2 separate regions of the Homo sapiens genome follow, and region 1 is linked to region 2. Evidence: fine-mapped expression QTL. Tissue or cell type: thyroid. Region 2 holds a variant in brackets; the other region holds the start of a gene. All regions are shown on one strand. Distances are between the middles of the regions.

What was found. PIP is the estimated chance that this variant, and not a neighbour inherited with it, causes the effect.
Region 1: it holds the start of LINC03056, and the variant in region 2 is fine-mapped to the expression of LINC03056 in thyroid (GTEx, PIP above 0.99).

The regions. Positions count from the first base shown.
Region 1 is chr12:63,372,309-63,374,957 of GRCh38, forward strand. It overlaps LINC03056 (long intergenic non-protein coding RNA 3056), which reads right to left and starts at 1,445. Exons shown (of 2, transcript XR_007063345.1): 1 at 1,402-1,445.
Region 2 is chr12:63,303,888-63,306,740 of GRCh38, forward strand. The region is part of intron 1 of LINC03056 (long intergenic non-protein coding RNA 3056); the gene reads right to left. Among named protein-coding and RNA genes, the nearest start is that of LINC03056, 68 kb to the right of the region's middle. The variant G/A (reference allele first, on the strand shown) is at 1,425.

The sequences.
Region 1 (2,649 bases), 68 kb after region 2:
GTTATTTAGTGTATCAAAATAAAAGATAGGCAATGCTATCACAATGAATGATAGGGAGGGTAATGCAATTATACTATTGTAAGTTATCAAATTTGTGAAGTGAGAAGTGGAAATGTGAGAAGTATGAAATAGGAACTGAGAAGATTCAGATGATTAAGAGTAAGTAGGAAGTAGATCAGGTATGAAATGTGAAGTGGTAAAATATTGACTCTGAATAGACTTTGTTAAGGTAAAAATGAACACCGCTAGCCTTGTAAATGGAATACTATAATCAACAAATAAATTCAATTGGCCCAAAAAAATTCAGGAGAGGAGCAGGAGAGAAGCAAAATACTTAAGGGACATGAGAAAAAAACAAATGGGTGCTAGGATTAAATCCTACTATATCCATAAATACATTAAATATAAATAAACCAACCAAACTCTCCCATTTAAAGCAGAGACTGTCACTACACACTGTCTCAAAGAGGTGCACTTTAAATTCAAAGAAGCAAATAGATTAAAAGTAAGAGGATAGAAAAAGATATACCAAACAAATTGTAAGCATAAGAAATCTGGTGTTATAATATTAATTTCAAACAAAGTAGATTTCAGAGATAGAGACAATTCATGATGACAATAAAGGCATTTCTTCAGAAAGACGTAACAACCTTAAATGTACATTCACTAATAACAGAGCTTTAAAAATGACGAAGCAAAAACCTAACACAACTTAAAAAGGAAAAAGACAAGTTCACAAATTAGTTTGACTTTTTTAGCAGTCTTTCCTCTTCCCCACATAACTGATGAAAGAAATAGACCAAAAATAATTCAAGATACAGACAGTCTGAACAACAGTAAAAATCAGTTTGATCTTACTGACATTTATAAAACACTACATCAAAAAAAACTGCAAAATAACCATTTTTTTTGAAGCATCCTTTGGATGTTCACTAAGATAAGCCTATACTGGACCATAAAATAAGTCTCAGTACATTTTTAGGGATTGAAATCTTAAGTGTATGCTCTCACTCCATCTATATAATTTATGGATTTAAATTATAAATACAAAACAGTAAGATATCTAGAAAATCCTTCAAATATTTAGAAATTTAAAAACACATTTCTAATTAATGTATTATGATTTTAAAATAATAATTTAATAGAATAGAATAGAGACTCCAGAAATAGACCCACATACATATGGCAAATTGATTGTGTAAAGTCAACAGCTTAATTCAATGGAAAAAGGATAATCTTTAAACAAGTAGTGCTGAAACAACCGGATATCAATATGGGACAAAAGAAGCTATGCTATTTTCCTCACACCAAATATAAAAATTAATTAGAATTATAGGCTTAAATATAAAAACTGAGACTATTAAACTTCTAGAAGAATATATAAAAGAAAGTCTCCATTACCTTGTACAGCAAGGAATTTTTAGCCAGGACACTAAAAGTATTACCTGTGAAAAAAAAATTGATAGATTCAACTTTAATTAAAAATTCTACTATTCAAAAGATATTGATAAAAATCAAATAACATCAATAAAAAATTAAAACTCAAGATGCATACTGAAGAAAATGATATATATTTTTATCCAGAATATATAAAGAACATTTACAAGTTAATAACAAAATAAAACAATGAAAATAAACAAATGTTTTGGACAGATTCTTCTTCAAAACAAACAAACAAACAAACAAACAAACAAGGATTAGTGAATGACCAACAATTACATGAGCAGAGGCACAACATCATTGGTCATCAGAGAAATACAAGTTAAAACCACACGAGATACTACATACATACTAGAATGCCCAAAATTTAAAAAGTTCAATTGCATGTATTGGTAAGGATACAGAGCATCTGGAACTCCCAAAATTACTGGTGAGAGTGCAAAATGGAGCAAGCTTTTTGGAGATATATTTGGTAGTATCTCATAAATTTAAATATATGCTTACTGTATGATCCAGCAATTCAACTCCTAGGCATTTACAGAAGTAAAATGAAAATATATTTCTACAAAAAGACTCAAGTAAAATACTCATAGCAACTGTAACAGTCAAAAACTGGAAACAACCCGAATGTTAATCAAAGGAGAATGAATGACTTTGGCTTATTTACATATAGTATATATATACAGTGAAATAACACATAACAAAAAAGAATAAACTTCTGAACACATAGCAACATGAGCCAATCTTAAGAATATTATGTTGGCCAAAAGAAGGTAAACATAAAGGAATACTAATTGATTCTTATTTAGATGAAGCTCAAAAATATGCAAAACTAATATAGGATGATAAAAATCTAAGTACTGATTGCCTCTGAAGAAATGTTGGCTGATTTAAGGGGAGCCCAGGGGAATTTTCTAGATTTTTTAAAAAGTCTTCAACTTTTATTTTAAGTTCAGTAGTACCTCTGCAGGATGTGCAGGTTTGTTACACAGGTAAACATGTGTCATGGTGGTTTGCCGCACAGATCGTCCCATCACTAGGTATTAAGCCCAGCATCCATTAGCTATTCTTCCTGATGCTCTCCCTCCTTCCTTCACTGCCCCCTCCACACACAGGTCCCAGTGTGTGTTGTTCCCCCAATGTGTCCATGTGTTCTCATCATTCAGCTCCCACTTATAAGTGAGAGCATGTGGTGTTTGGTTTTCTGTT
Region 2 (2,853 bases):
AGTGTATTTTATTGAACCTGCACTTCATTCAAATGCCCATGCTTATGTTAAAGTACATCAATAAACCATTATATTCGAATCTCTCTGATATATTCTGAATTTTTGAACCCTTTTTTTTTCCTTTGGTTTGTTTTACTAAATACATATAGCATATGTTCACAATGATAGTAATTTGACTTCAACAAAAATATTGCAGTTTAATTACGGAGGACTTTTTGTTATATTTGAATAAAATGTATTAAAAGCCAAGCAATATGCTCAAGGGATCAAAATTGTTACAATAGGTAGAGTTTGTATTTTCAAGGAGCAAAGTAACGTGGATTATTATAATAATTATTGTTATTTGAATAACTAAAAGCTATCTATTTTTTATTTGGCCTTTTAGTTTGGTAATTGCTGTAAATGCTTATTTCTAACTCTCCCTTTGGTACATCATCCTTAGAGAATTAACAACACCTAGTTTTTATAATTTCACTAAGCTTGAGTGTCAAAATTTTCTAGTCACATAGTTTGAGAAAATTATGAAATAAGCAGTAAACTGATTAGAATAATTATAAATTTTATTTTGGAGTAGATGCATATTTTTAGGGAAAGGGGACGCTTAAGAATGTATGTAGGCTGGCCAGACACAGTGGCTCAGGCCTGTAATCCTAGGACTTTGGGAGGCTGGGGTAGGAGGATTGCTCAAAGCCAGGAGTTCAAGACCAGCCTGGGCAACATAGCAAGACCCTGTTCCAAAAAAAAATTTTGTTTTTAATTATATGGGCATAGTGGCACATACTTGTAGTCCTAACTACTCAGGAGGTTGAAGCAAGAGGATAGTTTGAGCCCAGGAGTTTGAGGCTTCAGTGAGCTATGATTGCACGGCTGCAGTCCAGCCTGAGCAACAGGGCAAGACCCTGCCTCAAACAGCAACAACAACAAAGTACGTAGGCTAAGGGGAAAAGGTTAAAAATCTTTCTCTTGTCTGAAAAGCCAAAATAAAGACAATTATTAATAGGTTATGGGAAGTAAGATGAGATTCAAAAATCCCCCATACATATGAACAAAGCCACAAACACCAATGCGTTTCTGTGTTCTCCAGTTGAGCAGGACTCCAACATGACTCAGGTAGCCTATCATAGCTCTAATTTCCCAGATGTCTCATGCACTCCAAGAGTTCCGAACACTGTGTGAAAGGGAAGTGTCAGCCACTGCTTGGGGGCATAAAACAGCCAATCTCAGTGATGAAGCAGTCTTCAGGCATGGATTTACCCCCTACGTAATTGAGAATTTGTTTGAGAAGTTATCTATTAGAAAATGTGCTATAATTACTGGGGGTTGTGTGTGTTAAGGAAATTGTCGGGGACCTTGGAATTGCTAGCTGATGACACAACTGGAGAAAGCTATCTTCTCTGTTCTGAATTTTTGTTCATTAAGCAGCC[G/A]AAACTACTGATTCATTGTGTATGATTAGGGCATGCAAATAGAGTCATGAATAAAGAGTGCTAAAGATGACCCAGACATTTTTCTTATTAGTGCAGATCTCAAAACATATTCTTTTATGTCTCTACACCATAAGCAATTAGGGTGTATATGCAACATATACCACAAACAATTGCCACTGCCACATAGGATAGACTAGAGGATTTTTACTCTGTGTTCTATTTCACGGCTCAAAATGATTAGAATATTGCTATGCCCTTGTTATGGAAAAAAATTAAATCATACTTCTGCATAAGTTTTATTAAGTAAATTTGCTAAAACCTGATTAATAAGATAGTTTGCCCTCCAAAGTTGAAGACTTAAAAATAGTTTCATTGCTCTACTTTGTGCTTTTGAGGCAAGAGCTAGAACATTAAAGTTGTTCAAAAATAATTTAACAAAAATTTCAGTTTGTTACAAAAATATACCCTTGAAATAGCTTTTAAAAGTCAAGAAGTCTTCCTATATAAATATTTTATTAATGCCACTGTCACACAAATTTTTTCTTTTCTTTTTTTCTTTTTTTTTTGAGACAGAGTCTCACTGTGTTGCCTGGGCTGGAGTGCAGTGATCTCGGCTCACCGCAACCTCTGCCTCCCAGGTTCACGCCATTCTCCTGTCTCAGCCTCCCAAGTAGCTGGGACTACAGGCGCCCGCCACCACGCCCAGCTAATTTTTTGTATTTTTAGTAGAGACGCGGTTTCACTGTGTTAGCCAGGAGGGTCTTGATCTCCTGACCTTGCGACCTCATGATCTGCCCGCCTCGGCCTCCCAAAATGCTGGGATTACAGGCATGAGCCACTGCGCCCGGCCAAATAAAAAATTTTATTATCCAATGTTCAACTTCTAGCTGCAATGACAGACATGAAGGAAGAAAAACTACTTCATCCAAATTTAGTACATATCAAACACAAATTCCCACAAAAAAGGAAAAATTGGCAGTGTATTTGAATTATTTCAAAATAGCATTTCAAAGTTTTATTAAACTTTATGAGCACAAAACATGCTGACCCAGAAAACAATATACCAGGATCCCATGGGAAGGATTTATATGTTTATTATTACATTTGTTAATCACAGTCTGGGGAAATATAATTGCCATTTTCTTAAAAAATAGAGATTAGAGTTGTAAAACAAAGTAACTTATAAATCTTTGGATAAATAAAGGTTTAATGTGACAGAAAACCAAGTGCAGTCCTTTGTTGTTGTTTCCAGCTCTACCCCTCATTCATGTCAAATTGAGCAGTCACTTATGCTGTTTTTCAATTTTCCCATCTGCAAAATGAGGAGAAAGGCTTTGCTGTCTCATGGGAATACTGTATTATGTTGCTTCCTCTCCAGTTCTTAAAACTAAGACTGAAACCAAGGCTGCTACTTCCTTGGTGTGATTCA